2 separate regions of the Homo sapiens genome follow, and region 1 is linked to region 2. Evidence: fine-mapped expression QTL. Tissue or cell type: adrenal gland. Region 2 holds a variant in brackets; the other region holds the start of a gene. All regions are shown on one strand. Distances are from middle to middle. Region 1 holds the start of KCNK1 (potassium two pore domain channel subfamily K member 1). Region 2 has its middle 100 kb from the start of KCNK1.

What was found.
Region 1: KCNK1 starts here. The variant in region 2 is fine-mapped to the expression of KCNK1 in adrenal gland (GTEx, PIP above 0.99).

Annotation. Positions count from the first base shown.
Region 1 is chr1:233,608,353-233,619,448 of GRCh38, forward strand. It overlaps KCNK1 (potassium two pore domain channel subfamily K member 1), which reads left to right and starts at 5,754. Exons shown (of 3, transcript NM_002245.4): 1 at 5,754-6,174. The coding sequence starts at 5,820. RefSeq lists enhancers at 4,880-5,532, 6,721-6,780 and silencers at 5,321-5,420, 5,781-5,850, 6,191-6,250.
Region 2 is chr1:233,506,423-233,517,518 of GRCh38, forward strand. No RefSeq gene overlaps it. Among named protein-coding and RNA genes, the nearest start is that of KCNK1, 100 kb to the right of the region's middle. The variant T/C (reference allele first, on the strand shown) is at 6,069.

The DNA.
Region 1 (11,096 bases), 100 kb after region 2:
GAGATTCAGGGCTAGAACATTCTGGGTATCCCTGCTTGTGAATCCAAAAATTTTCAGAGGCATCTCAGGGTGACTTTTTGCTTCACTTGGTTCATTCTTTCCCTCCTCCTCCCCTTGACCTTATAGATGCTGGAACCATAACATCTCAGACTTGGAAAGAACCTTAAATGACATCGGCTGAATGCTCTTCATTCTACCTCTCTAATTTGTCATTGTTTGCCTTCGGCTTGAACACTCATGAAAGGGAGCTCACTGTTTCTAGAAGCAGCTCATTCCATTGACAGTCAACTCAAATGAATAGAATGTTCTCTCGTACAGTGAATTTTAAATGTTACATTCTGTATCTTCCACCCATTAATCTTAGCACTGCCCTTTGAAGACATACAAAATAAACTCACATTTTTTTTTCCATGTGTAGCTACCAGATCCTCCTAAGTTTTCTCTTCTCAGGGAAAGCACCTGGAATCCTTCAGCCACTTCTCTAAGCAGAATTTCCAGACCCATCACCAGCCATGTGCCTCGCATCTGCGTCTGTGCCAGGTCTTTCAGGTTCTTTGTACTGTGCCCCACCTGAACCACCCAGCACTCTCTGGAAGTGGTGGCTGTCTGCTTCTTCAAGGGCCCCATGTCACAGATAGAGCCTGGGAGCTCATCAGCTGGTGGGAGAGCTTCAGCTTGCTATTAATGCATGTGGCCCCTCTGTCCATCCGAATGCTAACTTTTTTCTTTTTTTAGGATTGCCATAAAATACACATAACATAAAATTTAGCATTTTAACCATTTTTAAGTGTACAATTCAGTGGCATTAAGGACATCCACATTGTTACGCAATCACAACCACCATTTATCTTCAGAATTTTTTCATTTTGAACAATTGAAATTCCATACCCATTAAACAATCAATCCCCCTTCTCTCTTCTTCCAGCCCCTGGCAACCACCATTTCGCTTTCTGTTTCTGTGAATTTCACTACTCTAGGTACACATACCAGTGGAATCATATAGTATTTGTCTTTTTGTGAATGACTTATTTCACTTAGCATAATGTCCTCAAGGTTCATCAAATGTAGAGCAGGTGTCAGAGTTTCTCTCCTTCTTAAGACTGAATACTATATGGCTGTATGTATGTATCATAATTTTTATCCGTTTATCTGCGGATGGACACTTGGGTTGCTTCCACCTTTCAGTTACGGTGAATCATGCTGCTATGAACATGAGTATACAAATATCTGTTCAAGTCCCTGCTTCCAATTATTTTGGGTACATACCCAGAGGTGGAATTGCAAATGCTAACTTTTTGTACTTGTTGCTGATTGACTGGATTTTCCCAACCCTGTATTTGTAAATTTCACTTTTTGATCCCAAGTTCCTATAGAACCACTGTCTCTACAAATTATTCTCATCATCTCAACCTGTTGAGGTCATGAAGCCCATTGATGCCCAAGTATCATACAACACAGTAGTGATCATTTACATCATTAGCTCTACATCAGATTAACTTGCAAGGCTCTGTGCCAAGCCCAGAGTTTGTTTCTCAGAAAGCATGGTCACCAGTCCACAAATTATGTCAGTTAGAGGGGACACTGATGCAGGAAGCAGAAAGAAGCCATGGCCTCTTCCCCCACTCTCTTTACTCCCCCACTCCTACTCCCCTTGATCCCCTCTTTTGTATCTCTGCACTCTTCTCTGAGTTTTCTTCCATATTCCCATTCTCTTCTAAAACATGCTTGGGGATAGCGTGTGGCATGCTAGGTGGGGGTGAGTCAGCAGAAATGTCAGCTTGTATGGTCCCTTTAATCCGTGTTGGGAGGTCCAGAGAGAAGTAGCTAGTCAGCAGTGAGTTACACACAGATCATGTGGAGTAAAGATTTCAAACTTTAGAAGAAAAAATTCTAACATTTCCGAGATTGCTAACTTCTTTGAAGACAGGAGCATCTGTCTAGAGCAGTGGCCCAGGACGAGGAAGGAAGGCAGCCAACCTGTGTTATCAGGATTCCCATCAACTCAGACAGCCAGAACCTCAGAAGTCTTTGCATTTCCCAGCCCCATATCCAGGCTCCACTCAACGTACCTCGTCCTGCAGGATGAGATCTATGCCCCCATCAGACCACTTCCATGATATTTCCAGTTTCTACTTGTAGTCTGAGGATAATATGATTTAAAAATATTTGGTATCCTTGGCCTAGTTGTGATGTAGAGCTGGGGCAGAGTCTCAGCCAGAGAAGTGAACTATGGAGAAAATGGCAAATTTGTCTGAAGAAAACTTCTAATAATAATTTTTAAAATTCAATGTAGTCAAGATGCATGTTGTTCCAGTTATCTATTATTGTATAACAAGCTAGCCAAAAACTCGATGGCTTAAGACAGCCATCTGATGATATCTCAGGATTCAGGCAGAACTCAGCTGGGAGTTCTGTTCCTGGGTAGATAGACAGAGGTAAGACACCCAGTGGTATTCAGCAGGTGGATGCCCTGGTTTGAGAGTTGAAGATGGCTACACTCATCTATCTGGTGTCTTGGCGAGAATGATAAGGAAGCTGGGCTCACTGGGCTGTCCCTTGAAACACCTACATGTGGCCTCTCCAGCATGACAGCCTCAAGTTAATCAGACATCTTATGTGATGGCTCAGGGCTCCAAGAGGGGATTGTTCCAGTGAACAAAGTTGGAGGCTGCTGGTCTTTTATCATCTAACCTTGGAAATTACCTAGTATCATCTCTTATGTACTCTGTCAGTTGAAGTAGTCACAAGTTTCAAGGATAGGGGACAGAAACCCTACCCTTTGGTGAGGGACTGTCAAAGAATTTGCAACCATATTTCAAAGCTGCCATATACATGTTGGGGGAACCAGCCCCACACCAACCGGCGGGTACCCCGAGTCCAGCGGAGACACAGGAGTTAGAAAGAGGCAGAATAAGCATTTAAAAGGTGGGTCCAGGGGACCGTTGTGTAGGAGGCTTGCTCATGGCCCAGAGCTCTTGGGCTCCAACTAATTTATTGTTTTACAAGCTCTTTGTTCTTAGGGCAGATGGGAGGGGGAGGAAGGGATGAGGAAAAGGATTAATCAGTGAAGGAGAACTTGTGAGTCATTCAATAAGATGTACAGCAGTGGTGGTCTCTGTGAATTTCCTTGAGCAAAGGCGTGTGTCTAAACTACTTAAGATTGCGTGTGTCTAAACTACTTAAGATCTTTAACTTATTGGGACTGAAAGGGGTGGGAGCGGGTTTCAGGAGGAGCCAAGATGTTTGATTATACTCCACTGCTTCCAGGGCGTGTTATCTCCCTGAGCAGCCTGTGGAATGCCCCCGAGCAGTTATGCTCTCAGGGCATAAAGACATGAAGGCAATAAGGAGACTTTTCTCCTCAGAGGTCACCCATGGCTCCCCATGGGTGTCTCACACAGGGGAGAACAACTCAACTGGCACTCCAGAAACTCTTTTTCCCACAATACATGTATGTATATTTGAGTGTGATGATATAACCACACCTGCACCTGCAGTTCATCACAAGTACCCCACACAATCTGGCATTCAAAGGGTTGTATGTCTTGGGAAGAGGAACTCACATCCTGTTGGGGAATCACAGGTTTCATGAGTGAGCCAGGTCCTGAAGGATATAAACTGTGTTACAGATGGAGATGGAGGAGGAACTGTCCAAGCAGAAGGAATCAGGTGAGCAGAGACATAGGGAGAAAAATGATCATGACAGGCAGGAGGAGAATTCTGAGGGTCTGCTACGGCCGGGGGTAGCCTCATGAATGAAGAGGTCTCTGAACAGGGCAAATAGGCAAAGATCAAGGATAGGATAGGGCAAGCAAGGGTTACAGAGCAGGACAGGGAAGGACATTGTAGGATGGAGACTTGAGGGAGAAGGAGGAATTCAAGTTCTAAAAGAGTAGGGCACTTGCTGATGGGGAAGGGTTCCCAGAGGCGGAAGGACTGAGAGTGGTAAGTGCTTCCTTTCACCTTGAAAATAAGGAGGTACATTTTTTCCTTAGGGGTAAGAGCAAAGGGAAGAAATGGATTACCGATGAGTAAATTTTGAAGTACAGAGAAGTAAAGTGGAGGGCTGGCTTCAATCTTTTGAGTAACGTAGGAGGTAAGGCTATTGACTAAAAGTGAAAAATCACTGATATATATGTTAGACATTTGCACAAGTTTCTATGAAAATACAAAATATGACTTGTTTAGAGAACTTCAGTAAAGTAGGCAAATGTTCAGCTAGGTGTTGGAATGATTAATTGTACAATTCAGTTTTGTGTATTTTAAATGTTTTTCCTGATTACAAAAATAATATATATCCACTGTAGAAAATTTGAAAAATATTAAAAGGTACAAGAAAGGAAAGTCATCTATATACTCTACTATTACCCAAAGACAACTGCAAGGAGATAGTTTTATTCCTATGCAGTTGATTAATAATGCAGATGTCATTTTATTTTGTAACAAAATACAAATATTTTACATATTTGAGATTCTACACAGTTTTGCTTCAATAGTCTTTAGACACAACTTTAATGTGTTTAATGTCTATATGGTGTCCATGCTGTAGAGATGCCATAACTTATTTAACCATTCTCTATTTTGGAATATTTAGATTGTTCTGAGTCTTCATTATTTCATCTATACCGTGTGTGTGTGTGTGTGTGTGTGTGTGTCCCACATGTGTATGCACTATATTATACAACTACATGTATGTATATATAGATACCGTCTATGACCAGTCTTTGTAAGTAAGTGCCTCTCTGATTGTTTTTTCTTAGGACATATCACTGAATCAGAACAAATAAACCCTTTCAAGGTTCTTGAGACGTGTCGCTAAATTGCCTTTCCAGAAAGGGTGTACCAATTTTTATTTTCATCCACAAGCAGGCGGCTCGCTGACCCTCGCCCACATTTTTGTCACTTTAAAAAGAAGTGACAGTTGGGAAAGCTCAGTTTCTTCTGGCAGTTGACACATTTGGGATGTTTTTTCACCAAAAAACCTAAGGTCATGTTTTAGAAAATTCGAACTCAGAAATAGGACTTCTCTGAGACTCTCCTTTTCCCTCAAGTCCTTTTTGTGAGGGGGATGGGTGGGAGAGAGGAGACTGATTCAAGGAGCCTTCCAACTCTGATGTTCTGGTATTTTCACCGTCATTACTGGCACCAGATTGCTCAATCCTTCGACCAATAAGACAAAGAAGGAAAGTACTTCAGCGCTTGCTGTTTTGTAATACTGGCTTTGATTGGGAGAAAATAAGTGGGAAACAAGAGTAGCTTGGACAGGGGGCTTGGACGGCCAGCGCATTGACCAGAAGCGGCCCACACTACACGCGCGCGAACACACACACACACACACGCACACGCCGCGCGCGGTCAGCTAGAGTTTGGCTACTGGACCCAGGAAGGGAGGGAGCGGGAGGAGCTGGTGGCTGTCGGGTCGGGGTCTGGGCGCCACCGAGCGCCCGCCCCACCTCTGGAGTGCGCAGAAGGCGGTGCGTCCCGGGCCCCGGCAGCCCAGCCCAGGCGCTCTGGCCAAGTTTGCGCGCGGTCTCCGCTGACTCTCGGGTTACCTGAGCCGGCAACCACGTCAGCGCCACATCATCTGGGCTTTTTATATTGCAAGGAAACAGGAAAAGAAGGAAGAAAAACATCGCCCGAGAGAGCCAATCGCAGGAAGACGGCGCTGCCCGGAGGAGCGGGGCGGGCGGGCGCGCGGGGGAGCGGGCGGCGGGCGGGAGCCAGGCCCGGGCGGGGGCGGGGGCGGCGGGGCCAGAAGAGGCGGCGGGCCGCGCTCCGGCCGGTCTGCGGCGTTGGCCTTGGCGGCGGCGGTGGAGAAGATGCTGCAGTCCCTGGCCGGCAGCTCGTGCGTGCGCCTGGTGGAGCGGCACCGCTCGGCCTGGTGCTTCGGCTTCCTGGTGCTGGGCTACTTGCTCTACCTGGTCTTCGGCGCAGTGGTCTTCTCCTCGGTGGAGCTGCCCTATGAGGACCTGCTGCGCCAGGAGCTGCGCAAGCTGAAGCGACGCTTCTTGGAGGAGCACGAGTGCCTGTCTGAGCAGCAGCTGGAGCAGTTCCTGGGCCGGGTGCTGGAGGCCAGCAACTACGGCGTGTCGGTGCTCAGCAACGCCTCGGGCAACTGGAACTGGGACTTCACCTCCGCGCTCTTCTTCGCCAGCACCGTGCTCTCCACCACAGGTAGGGTATCCTGCGCGCCCCCTGGCCGCCCCGGCCACCTCGCCCACAACCCACACACCCCGGCCCCGGCGCCCCGGGCCCCTCTAACCCTCCCACCCCACCCCCCACCTTTCGCCATCCCGGCTCCTCCAGCCCGCCTCCCCTCACTGTCCTCCCGACCCTCCGACCTTCCCCTTACTGGCGTCCCCGGCCTCTGCCTGGGTGACTCGGGAGGGCAAGCCCTGCGGAGCCGGAAGCCAGAGAGGTGACTCCAGACGTGACTTGGTTGTTGCCGTCCGTAACTCTGGGGAAGTGGTCCCTAACTTCGGCCTGGGTGGCTGCAGGTGCTTCCTCCCCTTGAGTTCTTTTTTCGCAACCCACTAAGCCAAACTGTCGGGTTTGAATGTGTAGCAGCACCTGGCCGCCGTGCGGCAAGGCAGCGGGATGATGGAAACTCACCACCTTCCTCCCGCACCCATCCCAGAGGCCGAGGCTGCAGTCTGGTAATAATACCTTCTAAAGGGTCACCTTCCGGAGTGTGCCGTCCCTTTGGACCATGCACAGATATTCCAGCTCTTTTGTACCTTGGAGGCAGTTTTGGGGGTAGCCGAGTGACATCACTCTGCTCTTCCCAGGTGACCTCTGGGCGGACAGGCCGATCCGGTTTCTTTTCAGAGTAGGAGGAAGGGTGAGGGAGAGTAAAGGAACCATAGGATTGCCTAAGATCTGACTTAATTGGGGCACCCTGATTCAGCAGTTCCTTCAACTTGAGGTGTGCGAGGCTCCCCATAAACTTCGAAGCGCCACGTCCCCGTACGACTCACCCGCGGGGCGCCCGGCCATGGAGGAGCCTCCTCAGGTGAAAGATGAGGCCGGGCGCATGCCCCAGGGCTCGGTCACTGTGCCAGATCAGATGAATGAAGGCCGAATTTCCCCAGCCGGACCTAGTAAGGCACATACCCAGAGTGGAGATATCAATTGGTATTTGGACAGTGGGAGGAATCTGAAAGAGCGTTCAGCACAGTCCCTTCTTTTGATCTATGAGATCCAATCTTTGAAATAATCCATCTCGTCATGCACAAGGTCACACACTTCCTAGTTACCAGTGTCGTCCTGGAACCTGGGCCTTGTGATTTCTCTGCCAGGACCACTTTGTAACCCCCCACCCTCAACCTTTACAGGTGAATCACATCCCTTTGTGTGACTCCCAACTCTTCCTTCCTCCCCACCCCCCTCCACCACCCAAATTATTGTGTATAATTCCCTTTGGGCTATATCTTGTTGACTATCTTGGTAATTACTTGGTAATGAGTAATAATACACTATTCATGTAGATCACATGAAACAATTATTCAGAGGTCTGGGGTGAATTACTAAACTGATGTAAATCTACCCTGAAATAAACAGAAGTGGAATTCTAGCTTGTATTGTGAGATCTAAAAAACTGTTAAATGTAGCGCTAGACAAGACAGACCTGTTATCTCACTTTCCAAAGAATGCCTGTTCCCTTGCCAATACAATTTAATTTTTCTTTCCATAACTCTGCCTCCATTGTCTTTACCTAGTCCTCTGTTCCTCAGATCATTTAGGAGTCACCATGCCTTTCCTTTGGAGTATATTTGTGCTATATTGAGAGTCATTCATTCTTCCCAGAAGTAAGTGTTTCCATGGGGCTACAGAAAGTTTACAACTGGGTCACAATGTTGGGTAAACATTTCGAAGGATGCTTATAGCGTGTGGTGTTTTCTTACTAATGATATTGTGAGGATAGAACAAGAATAAGAACAGTTTTGAGGAAAAAGGTTTGCTTTTATCTGGGTGGGATTTTTCGTGACTCATGTATAGTCTTAACATCATATTGTCTAATTAAATGTTAAAAATTAGTTTATAATCTTGAATAGATGAAATATTCTTCCCAGAGGAGAATTAGAAAAAGGGATAGTTTCTGTTTAAGAAAGGGGTGGGGTGGGAATAGACGTCTTATTATTGGTATTCAGATTGCTTTGTAGTTCCTAAGAAAGTCTGTATTCATGCAAAACAAGTGTTCATTTAAGAAATCAGTGCAAGGGGCACTTAAGGATAAACTAAATGAAAAAGGTGCCTCTTGGTTTGTAAAGTTAGCACATCAATGAATTCTTGTTATATGAATACAACTATTCTAAATGAAAAGTACTCTTCTGTTGGCTTTGTACTGCCCCATTATTTGACACATTTGATATTTCTTAAGGTTTCAAAATTATAATTACCCATTATTTGATTCATTTGATGTTTTTTAAAGTCTTCAAATTATCATAGGTGCCCTGGCCATGAATCTTATAATGGGTGAGAAATCTTTTCTTCCCTACAAGGGGAAATAAAGAGATGTTAAATTGTGTGCTGGAAACAAACAATATTTTAAATCACTTGCTGGAAGCAGACAATTTTTTAGAGTAAAGCTGATGTGCTTCATTACTAGGAAAATATTTTCTGGAAAAGCGCCAACCAAATAAAATGAGTTGCAATCGCTTTTCGTTTTTTGGGTGGATATTAGACATGTTGTGCTTTTTTTTTTTCTTTTCTTAACACTTCTAGTCCTTTTGAAGGCAAATCACTGAGATAATTGTTACCTAATTAATCAGTACAGTCAATCCTTGACTTATTCAGAATGCTAACAATGAGCATTACAAAGATGCTGTTATTGGTAGTCATTGTTGTAACACAGGCCCATGAGTGCTTTTATGTCAGAATCTTCTCACCCCAGAATGTACAAACTTCCGTTTCTGGAAGGAACTGAGTAAAGTCTTCATGGTCTACTTGGAAGAAGGCTTAGGTTGGTAATTCAGCAATAGTCTTCTCATTCTGTGCTTTGCCAAAGACTCTGAATTATTTCCAGCAAACAATTTAACATCTCTTTATTTCCCTTTGTAGGAAAGAAAAGATTTCTCACCCATCATAAGGTTCATGGCCGGGGAACTTATAATAAAATGCAAATTAACAAGATAAAAGCACACACATTTAGTTAATATAAGTTTTAGATGACATAGACGCCTTTAGAAATGAAGACCCCAAGAAACAGGGAAGTTTATGTATTTTTAGGACAGTTGTGTAGACGAATGATTGGAGAACAAAAGGATATGATCTGACTGAGCACGGTGGCTCACACAGGTACTCCCAGCATTTTGGGAGGCCAGGGTGGAAGGATTGCTGGAGCTCAGGAGTTCAAGACTGCAGTGAGCTATGATTGCACCATTGCACTCTAGCCTAGGCAACAGAGTGAGACCTCATCTCTACTAAAAGTTAACAAAATTAGCCCGGAGTGATGGCGTGTGCCTGTAGTCCCAGCTACCTAGAAGGCTGAGGCATTGAGTCTAGGAGTTTGAGGCTGCAGTGAGCTGTGATTGAGCCACTGTGTTCCAGCCTGGACAACAGAGCAAGACTCTGTCTTGGAGGGGGAAAAAAAAAGAACAAAGAGGATATGATCTAAAAAGCTAAATAACTGGAGGAATTTAGCAAGGCCTATTTGTTCAGATTTTTCTTGGAATCTCTGTGTCTTCAAAGATAGAGCATTCCTTTTCTCAGGATATAGGATGGGCTCCCTTGTAATGAGGGTCTTCTTCAAAGGAAGGGCAGAGCTTCAGGGAAGAAGGTTAAGAGGAAGGCGAGAATGATCTTCCTGCTTCTGCTGTTTTCTCAAATGCTAAGGTGCCCTGTTTGGGGGTCGCATGCCCTGAACTCCATCACCCTTCATTCTAAAAGATACGGCAACATCTGCATAGGAATCTTATGAGAATGAGTGAAACACTGCAATACAGTTTTGAGCTTTTCAGAAAGAAGAGTTGTATACAAAAAAAAAGGAGGTATTATAGACTGCAGAATTTCCCACAGAACTTCTATACTGTGTTTTTTTTTTTTCCCCAAGGATTGAGGAAATAATGTCCAGGTGATATTTGGGGAGTAAGAAATAATTATTAAACTTTGGTAGCCATCTAAAACTTTGGACAGTGTCGTTCATTCTTAAGAACAATTTGTGATGTTGATTTACTAAAGTTTACTTCTTTATTCATTCCCCAAAGCAAGGCCATGTTATGATGACAACTGTTGGGTAAAAATACAGTTTTTGCCCAGGCGCGGTGGCTCACGCCTGTAATCCCAGCACTTTGGGAGGCCGAGGCAGGCAGATCACGAGGTCAAGAGATCAAGACCATCCTGGCCAACATGGTGAAACCCCATCTCTATTAAAAATGCAAAAAATAGCTTGGTGTGTTCGCATGCACCTGTAGTTCCAGCTACTCAGGAGGCTGAGGTGGGAGAATGGCTTGAACCCGGGAGGCGGAGGTTGCAGTGAGCCAAGATTGCACCACTGTACTCCAGCCTGGCGACAGAGCAAGACTCCATCTCAAAAAAACAAAGAAACATAAAAACAAAACAAAACAAAAAATAATTTTTGTATTCATGCAGTATACAAACTTTTAGTACCTTTTGCTGCTTTGTAAATGTGGGATCCATGTGACAGCTCAGTTCCTGTTCCTTTTTGTTTATTTTTATTTTTTGGAGATAGGGTCTCGCTCTCTCACTCAGTCTGGAGTGCAGTGACACTATCGTGGGTCACTTCAGCCTCTAACTCCTGGGCTTAGTTGATCCTCCCACTTCAGCCTCCTGAGGAGCTGGGACTACAGGCGCACACCACCGCACCTGGCCAATTTTTTTTTCATTTTTCTTTGGAGAGCGTGGTCTTGCTTTGTTGCCTGGGTTGGTCTCAAACTTGTTGCCTTAAGCTGTCTCCCACCTCAGCCTCTCAAAGTGCTGGGATTACAGGCATGAGCCACCATGCCTGGCCCCTGTTCCTGCCATTGGTAACCCTGGTGCCTTTAGCCAGGATGCTGCTTTATCCCTATTTATGAAGAGATGCATTGAAACTCTAGTTAAAGTGTTCAGTAAGTGAACTTAATTGGGCTTGGTGTACA
Region 2 (11,096 bases):
ATTTTGGTTTCGATTTGCAGTTCTCTAATAATTAGTGTTGTTGAGCTTTTTTTTCATATTTTTTTTGGCTGCATGAATGTCTTCTTTTGAGAAGTGTCTGTTCATGTGCTTTGCCTAGTTTTTAATGGGGTTGTTTGTTTTTTTCTTGTAAATTTGTTTAAGTTATTTGTCAACTCTGGATACTAGACCTTAGTCAGATGGATAGATTGTGAAAATGTTCTCCCATCCTGTAGGTTGTTTTCTCTTTCTTGATGATGTTCTTTGAAGCACAACAATTTTTCACTTTGATGAAGTTAAATTTATCTACTTTTTATTTTGTCACTTGTGCTTTTGGTGTCATATATAAGAAGGCTTTGCTTAACCCAAGGGCATGAAGATTTACTCTTATGCTTTTTTCTAAGTTTTATAGTTGTAGCCTTTTCATTTAAACCTATTATTTATTTTAAGTTAATTTTTGTGTATGGTATGAGAGGAGTCATTTATCTTTTTTATCATTTCTCAGTGCCTAGAGTGTTTGGAACATAATAGATGCCTTATGAATATTTCGTGAGTGAAAGATTCCATGATGAGAAAAATGGTATTCGCCTCATGACGAATGATATTCAGCATATTTTCATGTGCCTGTTTCTTATTTCTACATACCTTTCTGGGAAGTGTCTTCTAATATTTTGCCCTTTGTTAAATAAATTATTATTATTATTTTTTGCTATTGAGTTTTATGAGCTCTTTATATATTCTGGATCCACATTTAGGATCAGATATCTGCATTAAGAATAATTTTCCCAGTATGTAGCTTGCTTTTTATCTCCATGGTATCTTTAGAAGAGCAGATGTTTTTAAAATTTCTTGAGGGTTTCTCCCCACTGTACCACTCCTGATGCTGGTGAAGGCTTGCAGTGACTCATAACCATCTTCCTCATGCCCCATAGGTGTACCATTTCCGGGATGCCTTCCCTGGCACACGGGTCAAATATCTTTCAAGACCCTCTCCCACATTTCACACAGCGGGCCTTCTGGGTGGATGAGCTGGGCTTGGGACTCACTGTGACTCTCCTTCCACAGAATTCCTCTGCTGAAGTGCCTCCTAAGCCTCTGTTTCATACCAACAACCAGAGAGTGGGCACATGGCTGAGCTGTAGCACAGGTGGAGAGGCTGACCTCCAACATACTCCTCTGCAAATGGGTTTTACCAGTGGTGGGGGTGCTGAACACAGTGCAGAGGTGGTGCCTAGACTCAGGAAAATCTGACTGCAACTGACAAGCTGGTGTCCAAGGACTGCTAAAGGCATATGTGCATACCTCCAGAGACATTCAGTGTAGGCCAGTGTTTGAGAGCACAGGAGTGGGTTCTGTCCCAGGCCCTTTCTCTGAGGCTGAAGCATGAGGTCTCCCTCGTATTCAACTTGGGCAACTACATGAGACTTAGAAGATGCAAGTCCCAGTGAGGCCATGGTGCAAAGTTCTCTAGCATCACATCATGGTATAGGAGTCTCTGACCATCACTGAGGAACCTTCCCTCCTCTTGGGAGAAATACATGGCCATGTCCTCAAAGTAAATGTTTTTACAGAGGTGGAATCCTCTTCTGAGTGCATCAACACGGTTGCTGCCATAGAAATCTATAGGCAGAGTGGGGAAGTGGGAGGCAAGAGACCAGAGTGGAGACTCAACGCTGTCATCTTCGCAGGGGCTCAGCAGCTGAGCCCTAGACCTGTGTAGGTGCCATGGGGATGATGCTTCCTTTTGTGCCTTCTCCCATTACCTTGGCTTCACTGAGAGTTCCAGAGCCTCTAATGTCAGTGCTGTTGTTTTTATAAATTGCTGGTTTCAATTGGTTGATATTTTGCTAGGGAATTTTGTGTCTATGTCCAAGAGGGAGAGTGAGCTATGGTTTTCTTCTTCTTCTTTTTTTTTTTTAATAATGTCTTTCTCTGATTTTATAACCATGGTAGCCTTGGTAACATTAAATAAATCTAGAAAGCATTGTCTCCTCTATTTTTTGAAAGAGTTTGTGTAGGGTGAATTCTACTTCTCTCTCTCTCTTTTTTTTTTTTTTTTTGAGATGGAGTCTTGCTCTGTCGCCCAGGCTGGAGTTCAGTGGCGAATCTCAGCTCACTGCAAGCTCCGCCTCCCGGGTTCAAGTGATTCTCCTGCCTCAGCCTCCTGAGTAGCTGGGATTACAGACATGCACCACCACACCTGGCTAATTTTTGTTTTCTTAGTACAGATGGGGTTCACCATGTTGGCCAGGCTGATCTCAAACTCTTGACCTCATGATCTGCCCTCCTCGGCCTCCCAAAGTGCTGGGATTACAGGTGTGAGCCATCGCGCCTGGCCCTCTATCTCTTTTTTTAAATGTTAGAGAGCATTCATCAGTGATGCTGTAGAGGTCTGGAATTTTCTTTTTTGAAAAGTTTTTAGATTACAAATACAATTTTTAAAAATAGACATTAGGCTATTCAAATGTTCTTTTGCTTGTTGAGTCAGTTTTGGAAATTTGTGTCTGTTAATGCATTGTTCCATTTCTTCTAAGCTATTGAATTTATTGATACAAAGTTATTTATAATATTCTATTATCTTTAATAGCTGTACTATCTATGATGATCTCCTTGCATCACTTTAAATTTCTGATATTGGAAAACATGTCTTCCTTCTTTTTTATCAGTCTAAATAGAATTTTATTAATTTTGTTTAATTTTTCAAATAACCAGCTGTTGTTTGTATTAGTTTTATCTGTCATGTGCTTTTTATTTCACTGATTACTTCTCTTATCTTTGTTATTCCATTTCTTTCTACTTTTCTAAAGCTTGATTTGCTCATTTCCTCTCAATCTTTAAGGAGGAAGCTTAGCTACTCGAATTTTCTTCCTCCTTAATATATGTATTTTATGCTACAATTTCCCTGTAAGCACTGGGTTACTTGCATTCCAGAAAGTTTGATATTTGTGTTTTTATTTTCATTTAGTTTAAATTTATGTGTGTATTGATTACTGATTGAGTGATTTTCCATATGAATATATAAATACACACACACACATACAAAGTGATTTCAGACTTAATTTAATTGTGGTTAAAGAACTCTCCCTCTGCCTTTCTTTTCCTTAGCTGTTTGGGAGACAGTATTAGTTTCAGAATAAATAGAGGCACGGATAGCAGAATTAGGGGAGAGGGTAAAACTCAGTGTGTGTGTGTTCGTGTGTGTGTGTAGAGAGAGAGTGAGAGGGAAAGCGTACATCTGTTGCATATATTACTGCAACCTTAGAAAGCATCAAGCACCCCATAGACTTGTGCTGGAGGTTTTCAGCTTACCTCCCTGCATGCACTCTGCCTTTCTTGAGTTTGTTTTGTTCCTGGGAGGCTGATTCATTTGTGCTGCATCAATAGGTTCCTTGTTCTCTGGTTTCTTTTAGAGTTGGACCATTGGAAGCACTGAGAAGAGGTCAGAGAGTGGTAGAAAGGCAAGGTCAAGTGCATTTTCTGGATCCCTCTCTGCCAGGATACCCTGAGCGAGTGCACATCTTCATCAAAGGTCATACTCCCATCAGCTGGCCCTTTCTCCAACCTCAAGTGCCCTCTGAGCTCCTCTGTGGGCTCCCTCTGCTTGTCCCTTGGGTCTAAGGGTGGCAATAGCCCTACAAGGTACAATAAACCCCTTGTTGGTTTTCATCGACCTTCACATAGTTTTGACGTAGCCCCTTCATTAAAACTCTCCTCAGTGATGCCCCTTGGATGTGCTCTTTTATATATATATATATATATATATATATATATGTTTTTTTTTTATTATACTTTAAGTTCTAGGGTACATGTGAACAACGTGCAGGTTCGTTACATATGGATACATGTGCCATGTTGGTGTGCTGCACCCATTAACTCGTCATTTACATTAGGTATATCTCCTAATGTTATCCCTCCCCACTCTCCCCACCCCACTACAGGCCCCGGTGTGTGATGTTCCCCTTCCTGTGTCCAAGTGTTCTCACTGTTCAGTTCCCACCTATGAGTGAGAACGTGCGGTGTTTGGTTTTTTGTCCTTGTGATAGTTTGCTGAGAATGATGGTTTCCAGCTCCATCCGTCTCTTTCATCCTCACATCTTGACTGACATTAGAGAGAAAGCCGCCCCTTTTCTGATGGTTACAGATAATTTGTTCTCAGCCTGGAGGCAGATGTTGGGAGAAGGAAAAAGCCTTTTTCCCTTTTTTTTCAGTCTTCTTGCAGGCAGAAATTCTGTATTGATGTATTATATTTTTCTTTCTATTATCACCAGTTTTTCAAATCCAACATGCCTCACTGTTAACTCCATTTCTCTCCAAAATAAAATAAAGTTACCTACACTTTTGTTAAAATGTTAATGTTTTCCCTGTGAGTAGGTTTCACCAGCCGAAGCCCCATTCATTTACACCTGAATTTCTGGAAGGATGGAAATCTCTCTCCTTCACTGGCTCATCAGTTACTCATTTATATTTCAGAATAAGGAGGTTTCAGACGGAAAATGATGTCTGGTGGTTATTTAAAGAGTAAGGGCTGCAACTAATTGGCTCTTTGGCACCAGCATCTTTTTCATGACAACATGGGGGCACTTGCTGTTATGACCCGCATCTATTTTACTGTATTGAATATGATGGTGGTTGTAAACGGAAACATGTTTCCCACTTCTGCTCTAAATAAAAGCATTGTAAAATGCTGTGGAATTCCCTCATCCAAAATATTTGTCTCATTAAGAGTTTTCTCACATCAGTTAATGACTTAATTAGCAAAACTCCTCAAATTAAAACCTTTATCAACATTAACTGTTGGCAGAGATAGAAAATTCTCATCCTTACCTCTCACCAAAGTTCATATAGTAACATGAGAAGAGCAATTTCCTATAAATGTTAAACAATAAATTTCTTAGGAACTTTCACTTCCACTTAAAGGGCAGCCAGGGGGCAGGAGGAGGAGGGGGTGAAAATATTGCTCACCAGTGACTAGACTCTCTAAATGCACTCCTGTTGACTGCCTACATGCCTGTTTACAATTCCTTTTTTTTTTTTTTTTTTTTTTTGAGATGGAGTCTCGTTCTGTCACCCAGGCTGGAGTGCAGTGGCGCGATCTTGGCTCACTGCAACCTCCAACTATCGGGTTCAAGCAGTTCTCCTGCCTCAGCCTCCTAAGTAGCTGGGATTACAGATGCACACCATCACGCCTGGCTAATTTTTGTATTTTTAATAGAGATGGGGTTTCACCATGTTGGCCAGGCTGGTCTCGAACTCCTGACTTCAGATGATCTGCCCACCTCGGCCTCCCAAAGTGCTGGGATTACAGGTGTGAGCCACCACGCCCAGTCTCTTGTCTACAATTAGTAAAGTGTAAAATCATATCATGTCTATTTGCAGCCCCATTATTTATTTAGAGATTTGTTCTCTTTAAAATATCCTAGTGCAAGTTGAGCAGTAAAATGCTCCTCAACTCCAGTCAAAAAGGCCTTGTGGGAGGGCAGGGAGTATATTGAGAACAGGGGCAAATTCAATAGTCCATCTCTCCCAAGTAAAATTTAAAAAATATATAAAATTGTGCAAAAAGAAACCACTATGCAGGCAAACAGGGATGACCTTCAAAATCTTTCATCACTGGTACTGCAAGACACTGTCAATCAGAACAGACATCAGCCACCAGCAGCTACTCCTAGACTAGTGCAGATTTGGTAAGACAAGCATCATCCATGACATACCAGGGTGTGTGTGTGTGTGCCAATATGTATGGCCTGTGTGATTTGAGAAAGGAATGGGATTCCTTTCTATGTTAAATGGAGTTAGCATAGACCAAGAGAAGAGAGGAAAGAGATGGAAAGGTGAGGGAGACGGCGTCCAGCCAAGTTTGGCTACAGGGCATTGCCACGCTTTGCTCATTACAATGATTTCCATATTTTTGATGCATTTAGCTTTTCATGGTGCTTTCATCCCATCTCATTTTATCCTTAAAGACAAATATAGCAATATTCTTACTTTATAGCTTAAGTAGTAGACTGGAAAGGTGAGATTATAAGGGTGTCTTAGTTCTCAAGTCAAATACCTTCTTCCTCTGTAAGAGG[T/C]CTTGGAAATAAACTTGTGTCCCAGATTCTGGATTGAGATATTCTTGCCCTTACACTATGTGAATTCAGTCTTCCATTCAAGGAATTGAAAGAGGCCCTGCTGCAATAAATTTGTCTTTGCTTCTTCTGCCAGCCCCTGTGAGCGCTATCCTTGGATCAGTCCTCACAGTCTGATTGCCCTGCTTCCTCTAGGTGTTGGCTCTGATCCTGACCTTGGCTCAGCTCAGTTTTAGATGATCCTCCCGAGGATGCAATCTTAGTCAGTACCTGTTTTTAGTACTATTGACATGCCTGTGTCAATCTTATTTGCTCAGTGATTCTTGCCTCTCAAAATGACTCAAGAAAAGCACCTTATTCTTCCTTTTATCATGGGCATGGTTACTTTTTTGTTTTTTGCCAGTTGGGAATGTGAAGCTTTGTGTAATTCATTTTTCTCAGATCTTTTCGTCTGAGAGTCAAAGCAGAGTCCCAGGCCGGGCGCGGTGGCTCACGCCTGTAATCCCAGCACTTTGGGAGGCCGAGGCGGGCAGATCACGAGGTCAGGAGATCAAGATCATCCTGGCTAACATGGTGAAACCCCGTCTCTACTAAAAATACAAAAAAAAAAATTAGCCGGGTGTGGTGGCGGGTGCCTGTAGTCCCAGCTACTTGGGAGGCTGAGGCAGGAGAATGGCGTGAACCCGGGAGACGGAGCTTGCAGTGAGCCGAGATCGCGCCACTGGACTCCAGCCTGGGCGACAGAGTGAGACTCTGTCTCAAAACAAACAAACAAACAAACAAACAAAACAGAGTCCCAATTACAGTTATAACCACCAAAAAGACTGCTTTCCTTTCAAAGACCTGCTCCTATTTGGATCTATTTGTAGGAGGCCTCAGAGGGTGTCTCACTTATGCTTCCATATGACATCCATTAATTTTTTTCCTCTCCTTTTCTATACTCTGCCCACCCCTGTTTTAATATGTCTACAACTGGGTACATCAATGATTATATACTTTGTGAGAATTGCCATGTCTGGTCAGCATCAAGGGTGCTATTATATATGTCAAAACACTCTCACCCCCACCCCAACTTCTTTCAAAGCTTCTTTTTACTATTTCTGTCTTAGAATACTCAGGCTGCTATTGCAACATGCTTTAGACTGGGTAAGATTGAGTAATTGCAAGCAATGAAATTTGTTTCTCATAGTTCTGGAGGCTAGGAAGTCCAAGATCAAAGTTATAGCAGATTTGGTGTCTAGTGAGGGTTCATTTCCTAGTTCCTAGATGGTGCTTTCTCTCTGTGTCTTCATGTGGAAGAAGGGGCAAACAAGCTCTCTCAGGCCTCTTTTATAAGGGCATTCATCCTATTAATGAGCACTCTATCCACATGATTTAAAAGTCCCCATCTCTTAAAACTATTGCATTGGGGATTAGGTTTCAATATATGAACTTGGGGGTGACACAAACATTCAGACCGTAGCAATTTTAATGACATTTGCTGCATCTTGCTACTACTAAATCTGTTTTTCCAGATGCCCGTTTTCAGGCTCTGACCTGTGACAGTCGCGTGCTCTGGATGTGTCCCTGCAGGGATGCAGTTATCAATGTGCTGAGGCACTCGAGGTGCTAGTGGCCGTATCCTATAAAGGCTCCATGGGGCCAGCTATTTTCTGGTATAACAGGAAAAATCTTCTTCCTCCACTGTCTTTTTTTTTTTTTTTTTTTTTTTTTTGAGATGGAGTCTTGCTCTGTCCCCCAGGCTGGAATGCAGTGGTGCCATCTAGGCTCACTGCAATCTCTGCCTCCCGGGTTCAAGCAATTGTCCTGCCTCAGCCTCCCAGGTAGCTGGGACTACAGGCATGAGCCACCACACCCAGCTAATTTTTTTTGTATTTTTAAATAAAGATGGGGTTTCACCATATTGGTCAGGCTGATCTCCAACTCCTGACCTCAAATGATCCACCTGCCTCGGCCTCCCAAAGTGCTGGGATTACAGGTGTGAGCCAGTGCACACCTGGCCCTTCCTCCACTTTTATGCTGATCTCTGTTAATTCTCTGGACTTCAGAAACTGGGAAGTTCTTGAATCATATATAATCAGAAAATCCACAATATGGGTTTAGAATCTTCAGAGCCTCAACAATGTTAGACTCACTTTTGCTCTTTCATTTTCTTCTTTCCTCCCTCACTCCCTCCCTCCTTGGTGTCAATATTTATCTCCACCCATTTCAAAGCCCCACATCTCTCTCTTTCTATTGCTTTCATTCCCACTTGCTATGAAGTTATTTCTTTCATGGGGAATGTGATGAGTTTGTTGAGAAATGGCCTGCCATTGACCCAGGCTCACATCATCCTAGCTTAGCAACCTTAGAGGAGGGATACTACTTTTTCTCTTTCAAAGTAATGTGGTTGCCACCATAGGTGGGACCGCTGTGACTCGAGTCCCCTGTGCCTCGAGTCCTGGGGCAGCCGACTGTGCCACCCCCACCCTCACGGAGCCAGGCTGGACCACTCCCAGGCCCGGAGCCTCCACTGCTCTAGACTGTGGCCCTACGTCACTGCTGTCACCCGCTGCGGCTGCAGGGAGAGCATGGGGAGGAGGTGGACAGTCCCCGGAGCCCCCCGTCCTGCGGGCCGCCGTGATGGGGCCGGGCTGAGTCTCCAGCTGGTGGGGGAGCAGAGCAGTCGGGTACGGAAGGGGCAGGCAGAGAGGGGCCCTGAGGGAGAGCTGGGCCTGGAGTGGTGCCACGCTTCCACGGGGAGTGTGGGGGCCGGCGGGGGGCGGAGCTGGGGCCATGCTTCAGGGGCCCGGGGTGGGAAGTGGGAGGGGCTCCCACTACAGGAACCAGGGAGCAGCCAGCCACCGTGCCCACAAACCAGTCATGCACCTTGGGAGAAAGCCCTGGCGGGGCCACCCAGGGCCACGTCCTCAGGGTCGGCCCCACATTGGGGTGACTGCCGAGCCTGAAGCTCCCGAAGGCCGGACTGGTGCTCATGATGGGCTCCCAGAGGCGCTCCCAGAGGCACACCCAGGCAGAGTTGCCAGCTGGGTGAGGAGGAACCTCAGGCCTCCCCTGAGCCCGGGGACACAGAAAGAACTCACAGCAACGTCATCCTTCCCCCAGTTGCCAGGCTCCCGCCCCAGGCTGCAAAGAGGTGTGGCGAGGTCACTCCAGGGAGCTGGCAGAGCAGGGGACAAGTGGGAGCCCTGCCCCTTTCTAGTTGGTGGGGTGGGAACTCCCTGGGTGCTGCTGCAGGTGCCCTGCCACGGCTCCAGACCCAGGCATCTCTGTGCTCTTCGGGGTCTGGGAAGACCCCCTGCCTTCCACAGGCTCAGAAGTGGCTGCTCCCATGGCCTGGCCCAGCTGTTGGTGCCTCTCCCAATCTCTGAGCAAAGTTGGGGGATGAGCCTGCACACTTTTGCAGCCCAGCTGCGTTCACACACTCGGGGCAGCACTGACATGCAAGCCCCCTGCCACCTCAGCCCCTGTGGACTTCGGGCACCAATAAGCACGGGAGGGAGGCAAAGGGGGCCCTGGGGACAGCCCCACACTGGCCTTCAGGCGCCCCTTAGCATGAACAGCCTGGATGCCATGAACAGCCTGGGTGCTGTGAACCATAGTGGAGGCAGACAGGCTCCTGGGCAGAATGGGCTGGTCTCCAGAGAGGCCCCACCTTCAAGCAGGGAGGACCTGAAGCCTGGGAGCCAGGCCATCAGTCTGGTGGACCAGAGGGGGATCTTATGGTGCTTTTCCCTGTGCCCACCCATGGCTGCCCATGGACAAATCAGCATGCACTTCCTCCCCTCTGAGGCCCATAAAATCCTCCAGACTCAGCCAGACTCAAGCAGAGGATGGGGAGACAATGGGGAGATGACTAGAGGACCAGCTGCAGAGATGAGCTACCCTTTCTCCTGAGAGTTGAACACTTGTTGGGACACCCTGGCTAGGGAGAGAAGCTGCCCACTGCCAGTCTCCTCAGAGCTGTTTCATTGCTCAATATAGCTCCTCTTCATTTTGCTCACCCTCCACTTGTTTGTATACCTTATTCTTTCTGGTCAAGGGACAAGAACTTGGGACTTGCCAAATGAGGCTAAAAGAGCTGTAACACAAACAGGGCTGAAACATGCCCCTTACTTGCTATGTTGCAGGTGAAGAGAAGGAGAGAAAAGATGCAGCCCTTCAGGGATCCCAGCCCTGGAGGCTCCCAAAGCCAGGTCTGTGACTCCCTCTTTGGGGCCCTGTGGTTCCTGATGTCTCCAGGCTTCCGGGCACCACTGCATTCCCTGGTGCCAGCCAGGGAAGCTGCTTGTGGTGCACCTGGTCCAGCTGCAGTCTCACAGAGAGTGGGCACCCATCCCAGCACCTGGAGCTGCCTGTGCCATGGCAGCAGCTGTCGTGTCTGACTGTGTGCAGTGGCTGGACCCCACACTCGTTCACACACCCCTTGCTGTTCCATGCCTGACTCCCACTCAGAGTCGTGGGGTCCAGGCTGGTGGCGTGAGCCGAGCGTGGCCTGCCAGGCCAAGTGAGTGGAACAAGCTCAGTGGGCCCGAGCAACACTCAGGGAAAGGTGCCACCAGCCACAGAGGTTTCTGGCCAGAAAAGCAACACCCCAAAGATCCTGTAACGATATGTAAAATCTTATCAAAGATACTGTTTGATACAGTTTGGGTCAGGTGCTTTTGCTTGCATCAATCGTGGTGGCCCGAGGATAAGATATTGAAATGGAGAGTACCATTAAAGCCTCACAAAAGAGAGGGTAAGAAAAATTCCACAAAGAAGGAAAGGTACTGCTATCGGAATATGAACGTAAGGGATGCTGGGCAGAAAAAAGCAATAAATGCTCGGTTAAAAAAATAAATATCTTACAGAGCTTTTGGTGAGAAAAATTGTAAGTTTTTATTTGCTGCTCATCTCTCTCTAGAACTCAGAGATGAATCCATGGAGGTAGGTCAAAAGAACAGTTTGGTCGCTGACTCTACTGAGTCTCCTGTCCCATACTGTGACCAAGGCTCTAATATTAGACATAGCTGTGTACCAACTCTTTTC